Regions from separate parts of the Homo sapiens genome. Here region 2 is linked to region 1. The links come from fine-mapping of genetic effects on gene expression. A gene starts in region 1. The other region holds a variant in brackets. All regions are shown on one strand. Distances are from middle to middle. Region 1 holds the start of OSTN (osteocrin). Region 2 has its middle 88 kb from the start of SNAR-I.

Region 1 (5,392 bases):
TTAGTTACTCAATAAATAACAGTTATCATTATCCTGATATTGCCTTTGAAATATGGCAACTTTTCAAAATGTTTTTACTACTTTTTAATTTTTATGAAAAAATATTTTTATCCTTCATTTTAACGAACAAAATTATTCCTCAAAATCTAGAATTAAGGCAGAGTGATAGAAAATATAGTAAGAAAAATAATATTGAATGGGGGAAGAAAATTTCACTCTAGAGAGTTATAAATAGAAATCACTCTAACATTTGGTGCATTATCATTATTTTGAGTCATAATATTTCTATAAAAATTGCTTCCAACTATAAAAAATGTAATCCTGGGAAAGAAACAAAAGAAAGCTCAGCTGTACTGAAGGCATCATTATTCTTCTAGCTCTAATTGTGCCACCTAAAGTGAACTTTTAATACCATTTTATATAATATTTTAAAAGTGGAATTTTCACATATTTATAGCCTTAGGTACCCTGGGAATATAGAATTTTAGAAACAGAGGAAGCAATCATTAAAAATTGTCAAATTTAATATCCACAATTAATAGATGGAGAAAGTGAGGCTCAGAGAGAATGAACCTGCTCAAAGGAGGGGAAAGAAGATAATAATATAGAAATTGTTGAAGAGGAAGAGAGAGCAGAAGGTGGTGGCAGAGGCATTGTTACTGGAGGGAGGAGATGGTTTGTATTAAGGTCTGAGCTGATGGAGTGGCAATAAGGAAGAAGGCATCACTGCTCCAGGGATGTACCGTGACACTTATCTGAAGAAAGAAGAGAAAGAGCTAGCTAAAAAAAATAAATAAATAAATAAAAAATGAAGCCTTTAATCTGAGAGATCTTAAGCCATTTGGAGAGTTGGTTCATTTAAGAGAGATACCCAGAGTTAGCACCTTGTTGTAGCTTACTTGTTGTATCCCCACAAGCTCCTGAGGGGAGGAGAATAAAGCTTCAGGGAAGCTGAATGGTTTGTCCATAAAGCTGTCGAAGTCAGAACTAGAATTAGAAGTCTAGTTTTCTGCCTCCAAAGCTTGTATTTCTCTGACTGAACTATTGAATCTAAGCAAAAGTTGTCTGGTAGGTAACAGTCATAGTAAATGAAATATTGGCAAAGCAGTTAAATTAGCTCTAAAGATTAGTCCTAAACTTCTGTGATACTGAGGTTTTATTCTCTAATATAGGGAAAATTGACTGACATGGGGGCTTCCTCAAATATTTTTATACTCAGTATCCCTAGCACTTCTATTTTTTTTTGTCCTTTTCACAAGGACAAAATACAATATTATCAAGCCTTAATTCGTGCTTAAGGCTTGCCTGCAGTTGTATAGGTGGATTATAGCAGAGCTAGAATGATATATTAGGATTTCTTACTTCGAGTTCTTTATTTTTGAGACAAGTTCAATTAATCTAATTTTATTAATCAAATGTTCAAATCATTGAGAGTATTTGTAAAAGAAGTTAAAATTATAGCCCTGAGGTTCCCGTGCCCAGTCAACTGAAGATATCTGCTTCTCTACTGCTCATTATTCAGTATATAAGAATCAGTTAAAAATCCTGAGAAATAAGGGGGAGAAAGCAAATGTCAACCTTAAACACTCTGAATAATTTTTGAATGAAGCCATAGTAAAATTCACTGACATGAAGGAGACCTGAACTGTTATCTACAGAAAGTGCTCCTTAGAAAAGTTCTGTAAGCGTGCTGAAGAGTAGTACCAAAGTAAGAGAAAACACAGAATGTCCCTGGTGTTTTTGGTATAACACTATCAATTCTATAACTTATATAGGCATTAAAATTACCATAATTCATTCTCAAAAATGTTAAATTTTTAGAAGGAAAACTCATAAACAAATAATAATCACATTCCTAAACCTATAGAGTCTGTTATTCAAAGAAACAACATTTGAATTGTTAGAACTGAATTCACTGAGTGCACACTAAACCTGAAATAAAATTTTAAATTTCTTCTCCAACAGAGCTCAAATGTATGTTTCAGATTAACTCTCAATTCAATCATTGAATAGCAAGAGCACTACAAATACTGAAGAACAGGCATACTCTAAGTCTACTCCAACTATGTTATTAATATCATATTTGCATATTTGACATATAAGGAGAAAAACAGAAGATGCATTAGGTTTTAAGAACATAAGAGATAGAATTTCATTAGTTTAGGGATGTTTCTTAAGCTCCAGTTTTGATAGAAATAATGAGGAAAAAACCTTTCTTTTTTACCTAGGTTGTTTAGACCACTCTTTTATATTAAACATTTTTCTAATATTACACAATTTTGAGGAAAGCAAAATAACGCTAATAACATATATATGTATAGAATTATTATTTTGCATTCACTTTCTGTTTGTTTTGAAATGGAAGAGAAAAGCAATCTTATAAATATGAAATATCTGAATAAGCAATTAGTTCTACCTTAAGTTTGCATTACAAAAATATCTTTGATTTTCTACTCATTTTAGAGAGGGAAATATTACCACTCTAATTTTAACAAAATCAAGATATAATCAAAACATTTAAAGAGTCTGTGAAAGTAAAAATAATAGTTAAAAGAAGCATTAAATCTTTATCAATTTTTACATATAACTTACCTCGTGAAAGATCAGGAGATTCTAACTTTAGAGTACTGTCTCTGCAGTTTCTCCAAAACTCAGCCCTGGTGGTGAGTTTTCTCTCTGAGTTTTTATAGTCTCAGTTATACACCCCTTACTCCAATCCCTGCCTTTGCTTTCTCTTACATCATTTCTACAGATTTTCCACTGAACATTTTCCCAAGCCTCTCTTCGATCTCTTTCTCTCCCTCCCTCTCCCTTCCTTCTTCAGTTTCTCCCTCCCTCCTTTCCCTCCATATTTAGTCTATCTATTGCTTTGATCATGGCATTTAAATAACGATGGAAGTATAGGCTCTGGAAAATTTGAATATAGATTTAGTATTGTGTTCAGCTTCACACCCATCACCTCTTCCTGAGGTTTTAGTCAAGCTCTGATTATTACAAATCATATTTGGGAAATAAAATGCACTAAGATTTGTTAAAAAGTCACCAGGGAATTTCAATGTACGATATAGAGAGATTGTAATCAGACACAAACGGATTTATTGGTGTAATTTTTGGACCTTTAAATGATCAGCTATGGAAATAATGAGTACTTTCAGCCTCCGTCAGGTGCACAGTGCTGTGTCAGTGAAACACAATGACAGCTACTTCGTAATTAACATTGCTATACTGGGAAGGCTGTCACTAACAAACCTATAAATACTGAGCTGTGACATGTGAGCTATAAATGAAGACGTTGTAATCATTTTTGTCTTGCTCTTGTTCTTCAGTACTTTGATTTCTTTTTAACCAAAATATTTCTGCCTTTGGCTGAAGGTTTTCTTTCATTCTTATCTCCTACTAATTATATTTGCATCCTTACATACACAAATTATTTTTTAAATGAATTATTAAGTTATAAAGGTAACATGTTATGTTATTAGATCGTTAATGGCTCATTTGATTCACCAGAGGGTCCCCATCTGACAGGTAAAGAGGCCAAGGCTCAGATAAATTAAGTGACTTTATGAGATCACACACGTAAGAAGTAGTCGCAGAGCTGGATTTCAAATGCAGATCTTCCTAATTCCATATCCAGTTCTTTTCCCACGACTGCATTCTATCTCACTGCTTTAAAAGCTAGAAAAGAGAATCCAAACCAGATTATATTTTTGCACAAAAAGCAATAAATTTATTCTTTTTGGTTTCCCTAAAAAGGCCATTTAAAATACTAGTCACTAGTATAAGGACAATTACATGGTTAATTTGGATCTAGATGGGGAAACTGACCAGAGCACACAGAATTAGTGGGACAGTAAAATGCTTCATTTTTATGATGGGTTTCCAGGGATAACATATGTCTCAACAAGCTTGAAATTTGAGTAGTTGGCAGAGACAGTTCACAAATCAAGATAAAAATACAGCCTAATTGTGGACCCTTGTTTAGACATTACTGCCATAAAACAATTATGTTAGCTTGAATCCACATGATGGAAAACTCTCAATATAGAATTAATGGATGCATCATAATGCTACCAGAAGCCAATATTATTGGCATACCTTCTACCCTTATTTGAAATGCCGCTCTTAGCATGCCGACAAGTGATATCTGTGGCTGATTTATTCCAGATCTGTCCCTGCTTAGACAGTCCAAAGATTCCTCCCTATTTGTGGATTTTGTTGACCTAATTCAAAAGTTTGACTTAACTGTTCTGCAGCAGTTGAAATAGCAACAGTTTATTCCAGGAACATCCATGGTACATTTAAGCCATTTTTACAGCCTTCTGTATATTATACACCTCTATATGATTTACTTATGCATTTACACATGATAGAAAAATTCCATTACCTTCAAAAGAGAGAGGAAAAATGGGAACATGCAAAGAAATAAAAAGATAAAGAGAATAAATATTCAGTGTTGGATGGGGAGAGTCTAAGATGAGAAAGGGAGAAAATATTAATGAAAACTTTTTCAGCTAGCGTGTCATGATTTAATTCCCATAACAACCTTGCCAAGGAAGTATACTTTTTCAAATATAATGAATAGAAAACTAAAGCTCAAATCTGTAAAATGGGTGGCCCAAATCTTCTTAGCTTAGAAGTGACAAGACAAAGGGTTGAACCTTATTATCTGTATCTGTCAGAATCTGGCAGAAAAGAGATGGCACATTCAAATTGAGTAATTTGAAGAGAATGAGATGTGAACATCGTGTAGAAGAACCAGAAGGGATCATGTGGTATAGTAAACCCTAGTCCTGAAGAGTCAAGGATAGTTACAGGGACGCAGAGACAAAGGGATCCTGAGTAGAGAAAGTTGTCTGGCAGAAGTGTGACATTTCACAAAAGGACATGGCAAGTCAAGAGCAAACCAGAGGGCATGGAACCTATGAAATAAGCACCAGATTTCACTCTACTTCTTTTCTTCAGTCTCCTGTGGTGTTTCCCTTTGCTGAAACCAAACTGGAAAAGAGATTGAAAGAGGGGAGATAAAAGGGACCCAGTACATCATTTAACCTCAAAACTGTGCTCCGAGAAACACAAATTGGGTCCTTTGTAAAGACCAACATGACTGCAAATGCCACTGTTATTCACATTGTTGTCTAATATTTCCTGCTGTTTTTTTCAAGTCAGGTTTGTTGAGGTAAAATTTACATACACAACATTTACTCTTTTAAACTGTAGAGTTTGACGAGTTTTGACAAATGCAGATGCTATGTATCTTCAACTACAATCAAGATACAAACATTTCTATTATTCCCCAAATTTCCTAAATGCCTCTTTGCAGTCAATCCCTCACCCCACCCCTAGGTCCTGGCAATCACTGATTTGATTTCTGTCCCTTTTTGTGTCTTTCCTA
Region 2 (5,392 bases), 230 kb after region 1:
TTTGACTGTGTGTATAACACAATTTGTTTAGCTGTTCCCTTGGTTTTGGACATTTTGATTGTTTCCAGTTGGGGCTATTATGAATCAAGCTGCTATGCACATGTGTGTATCAGTCTTTGAGGAGACATATATTTTCATTTTTCTTGGGTAAAAATCTAGGAATGTAACCACTGAGTCCTATGTAGATGTATTTCTAACTTTATAAAGTAATTGCTAAACTGTTTTCCGAAGTGGTTAATTTTACATTCCTACTAGAAATATGTGAGATAATAGTTGCATATACTGAGATAATACTATGTTTTTTCCCTTTAATCCATCAATATGTTCAATTACATTAATTTATTTCTTTAATGTTAACTCTTGCATTTTTGTAGATAATCTCACTTATCCTATTTATTTCCTTTGGAATATTAGTTTGTAGTTTTCTTTTATATTGATATCTTTGTCTTGTTTTGATAGCAAGAGATGATAAAATGATGAGAGGTTTCCACTCCTTCTCTATTTTCTGAAAGGACACTCATTTCTACCTTGGCAGGTCAATAGGATTCATCAATGATGCCATTTGGGCCCTGAATGTATTTTTATTATGAGTACAATATCTTTTCTCCCCTTTTTAAGTTAAAACTTAAAAATTATTCCTATTTATGAGATACAGAGTGATATTTCCATACATGTATACAATGTATAATAATCAAATCAGGGTAATTGGCATAACCCTCACCTTGAACATTTGTTATTTCTTCGTATTGTGAGCATTCAAAATCCTCTCTTCTAGCTTTTGAAAATATATTAATATGGTTTGAATATGTATCCTCTCCAAATCTCATGTTGAAATGTGGTCTCCAGTATTGGAGGTGGGGCCTGCTGAGAGGTATTTGGATCACAGGGGCAGATCCCTCATGAATGGTTGACATCATCCCCTTGGGGATAAGTGAGCTCTCACTCTGAGTTCACACAAAATCTGGTTTTGAAAAGTGTGCAGCACCTTCCCCTACATCTCTTGGTCCCAATCTTGACGTATGATGTGCCTATTCCTGCTTTGCCTTCTGCCATGAGCAACAGTTCCCTGAGGCCTCCCCAGAGGCCAAGCATATGCCAATGCCATGCTTCCTAAATAGCCTGCAGAACCATGAGCCAATTTAATCTCTTTTCTTCATAAATGACACAGCATCAGGTGTTTCTTTATAGCAACATGAGAATGGCTTAACACATATACACTAAATTGTTGTTAATCATATTCACTCTATAGTGCTACAGAACACTAGAACTTATTCCTCTCATCTAGGTGTAACTGTTAATTGACCTCTTCCCATCATCCCCTCCTTCTATCCTTCCCACCCTCTAATAACCACAATTCTACTTCTCAGTTTTCCTTAGCTCCCACAAACAAGGAAGAACAAGTTTGACCTCAATTTCTTTAATTGATATTGGACAGCATAGTTTTTTGTAATTCTTTCTGTTTCTTCAAAGTATTCATTCATTTCATTTAATCTGTCAAATCTATTGGCACAATGTTCATAATATCTTGCTGTCCTTTCAATGTCTGAAAATCATAGTAATATCCCTATGATACTAGGTATGTCAGACCTAATATTAGTAATTTGAGTTTCTCTATTTTTCTTAATCAGTCTCCCTAAAAATATATCAATTGTAGATACCTTTAAAAATCAGCATTTGTTTTATTAAATTTTCTTCAGATTCTATTTTAATAATTTATACTCTTATTTTATCATTTCTTCTATTCACCTTTGGTTTTTTTTTTTTTTTTGAGACGGAGTCTCGCTCTGTTGCCCAGGCTAGAGTGCAGTGGCGCAATCTCAGCTCACTGCCAGCTCCACCTCCCGGGTTCATGCCATTCTCCTGCCTCAGCCTCCTGAGTAGCTGGGACTACAGGCGCCCGCCACCACGCCCGGCTAATTTTTTGTATTTTTAGTAGAGACAGGGTTTCACCGTGTTAGCCAGGATGATCTCGATCTCCTGACCTTGTGATCCGCCCACCTCGACCTCCCAAAGTGCTGGGATTACAGGCGTGAGCCGCCGCGCCCGGCCTCACCTTTGGTTTTAATTAGCTTTTCATCTAACTGTTTAAGGTGAAAGCTTAGATCATTGATTTTCTAACATTTTTCCTCTGCTAGGTGGTTTTCATTTTCACTCAGTTCTAAATATTTTCTAATTTTTAAAGTTTGAGAATAATTTTTCAAAATTTAATTAGCTTTTCATCTAACTGTTTAAGGTGAAAGCTTAGATCATTGATTTTCTAACATTTTTCCTCTGCTAGGTGGTTTTCTTTTTTATTTATTATTATTATACTTTAAGTTTTAGGGTACATGTGCACAATGTGCAGGTTAGTTACATATGTATACATGTGCCATGCTGGTGCGCTGCACCCACTAACTCGTCATCTAGCATTAGGTATATCTCCCAACGCTATCCCTCCCCCGTCCCCCACCCCACAACAGTCCCCAGAGTGTGATGTTCCCCTTCCTGTGTCCATGTGTTCTCATTGTTCAGTTCCCACCTATGAGTGAGAATATGCGGTGTTTGTTTTTTTGTTCTTGTGATAGTTTACTGAGAATGATGATTTCCAATTTCATCCATGTCCCTACAAAGGACATGAACTCATCATTTTTTATGGCTGCATAGTATTCCATGGTGTATATGTGCCACATTTTCTTAATCCAGTCTATCATTGTTGGACATTTGGGTTGGTTCCAAGTCTTTGCTATTGTGAATAGTGCCGCAATAAACATA[C/T]GTTTGGCCGAATAGGAACAGCTCCGGTCTACAGCTCCCAGCATGAGCGACGCAGAAGGCGGGTGATTTCTGCATTTCCATCTGAGGTACCGGGTTCATCTCACTGGGGAGTGCCAGACAGTGGGCGCAGGTCAGTGGGTGCGCGCACCGTGCACGAGCCGAAGCAGGGAGAGGCATTTCCTCACTCGGGAAGCGCAAGGGGTCAGGGAGTTCCCTTTCCTAGTCAAAGACAGGGGTGACAGACGCACCTGGAAAATCGGGTCACTCCCACCCGAATATTGCGCTTTTCCGACGGGCTTCAAAAACGGCGCACCCACACCAGGAGATTATATCCGGCACCTGGCTCGGAGGGTCCTACCCCACGGAGTCTCGCTGATTGCTAGCACAGCGGTCTGAGATCAAACTGCAAGGCGGCAGCGAGGCTGGGGGAGGGGCGCCCGCCATTGCCGGGGCTTGATTAGGTAAACAAAGCAGCCCAGAAGCTCGAACTGGGTGGAGCCCACCACAGCTCAAGGAGGCCTGCCTGCCTCTGTAGGCTCCACCTCTGGGGGCGGGGCACAGACAAACAAAAAGACAGCAGTAACCTCTGCAGACTTAAATGTCCCTGACAGCTTTGAAGAGAGCAGTGGTTCTCCCAGCACGCAGCTGGAGATCTGAGAACGGGCAGACTGCCTCAAGTGGGTCCCTGACCCCTGACCCCTGACCCCCGAGCAGCCTAACTGGGAGGCACCCCCGAGTAGGGGCACACTGACACCTCACAGGGCGGGGTACTCCAACAGACCTGCAGCTGAGGGTCCTGTCTGTTAGAAGGAAAACTAACAAACAGAAAGGACATCCACACCAAAAACCCATCTGTACATCACCATCATCAAACACCAAAGGTGGTTTTCATTTTCACTCAGTTCTAAATATTTTATTTTCTAATTTTTAAAGTTTGAGAATAATTTTTAAAAATGTTTTTCCTATTAATTTAACTTTGACTACATTTTGGTCAGAAAATATATCCTATGTGATTTTAATTTTTTTAAATTTATTCTCTTTTGGTCTTTTTTGGTGAATATTTTATGTGCACTTGAAAAGAATATGAATTCTGCATTTGTTCAATGGATAATTATATGGAGAAGTTTAGATAAAAACTGAAGAACTTTGTGATAATAAATAAAAGTAAGGAACTTGTGTGATGCTTAGCAACCCATCCAGAAATGGCTGAAAGTAATTTTAATTTCAATTTTACAACGAAATTAAAGATATCTTCCAATGTAACTTATTTTAGTATCACGTTCTGGGTAAAATGTTTGTTTATACAATTATACAAGAGTGCTTTCTGAAACAAGAAAAAAAGACAGCTAAATATTGCTCTCACTCCTTATACCTCTATCTACCTCTTGAGATGCCAGCCTAAGTCAGTAAAGAACTGTAGTCTTTTTTCTTGATTGTGAAATTACCACATTCAGTGACAGGAGGGCATCTGCAATCCAAACAATGCTCTTCCCTGCTTCACACGCTCAGCAGTACCCTCTGGAGAGCAGTACCCTCTGGAGAGCAGTAGCAAGGAAGCAACACTTATGGTACTTACTATTCATTTTTCAAAGTTCCTCTTTAGAAAAGAGCCCATAATACTTCACACAAGTAATTACTTATAAATAAATTACAACTTCTGGTCTTGGGGTCTTCTTAGAGATCACGCTTCCACAGAAAGCAGAGCACAGTATTTTGGCCACCACCTTAACAGGATCAGTGTAATAGTCCGTTTTCATGCTGCTGATATAGACATACCTGAGACTGGGAAGAAAAAGAGGTTTTAATAGCCTCTCAGTTCCACGTGGCTGAGGAGGCCTCAAAATCATGACAAAAGTTGAAAGGCATGTCTCACGTGGTGGCAGACAAGAGATGAGAGCTCTGTGCAAGGAAACTCCCATTTTTAAAACCATCAGATCTCATGATACTTATTCACTATCATGAGAACAACATGGGAAAAACTCGCCCCCATGATTCAATTACGTCCCACCAGCTTCCTCTCACATCATGTGAGAATTGTGGGAGTTACAATACAAGATGAGATTTGGGTAGAGACACAGCCAAACCATATAATTTCCACCCCTGTCTCCCCCAAAATCTCATGTCCTCACATTTCAAAACGAATCATGCTCTCCTAACAGTTCCCCAAAGTCTCAACTCATTTCAGCATTATCTCAGAAATCCACAGTCCAAAGTCTTATTTGAGACAAGGCAAGTCCCTTCTGCCTATAAGCCTGTAAAATCAAAAGCAAGTTAGTTATTTCCTAGATACAATGCGGGTCCAGGGATTGGGTAAATACACCCATTCCAAATGGGAGACATTGGCCAAAACAAGGGGCTAGAGGCCCCATGCAAGTCTGAAATCCAGTGGGGCAGTTAAATATTAAAGCTCCAAAATGATCTCCCTTGACTTCCTGTCTCATATCCAGGTCATGTTGATTGAAGAGATGGGTTCCCATGGTCTTGGGCAGCTCCACCCCTGTGGCTTTGCAGGGTACAGCCTCCCTCCTGACAGCCTTCTTTCATGGGCCGGCATTAGGTGTCTGCTGCTTTTACGGGTGCATGGTGCAAGTTGTCAGTGGATCTACCATTCTGGGGTCTGAAGGATGGTGGCCCTCTTCTC

Evidence for each region. PIP is the estimated chance that this variant, and not a neighbour inherited with it, causes the effect. A credible set is the group of variants that fine-mapping cannot tell apart.
Region 2: its variant is the best candidate, but not a certain one, in a credible set for the expression of OSTN in sun-exposed skin (GTEx, PIP 0.89).

What each region holds. Positions count from the first base shown.
Region 1 is chr3:191,196,508-191,201,899 of GRCh38, reverse strand. OSTN (osteocrin) reads right to left here and starts at 2,659. Exons shown (of 5, transcript NM_198184.2): 1 at 2,593-2,659.
Region 2 is chr3:190,962,892-190,968,283 of GRCh38, reverse strand. No RefSeq gene overlaps it. Among named protein-coding and RNA genes, the nearest start is that of SNAR-I, 88 kb to the right of the region's middle. The variant C/T (reference allele first, on the strand shown) is at 2,752.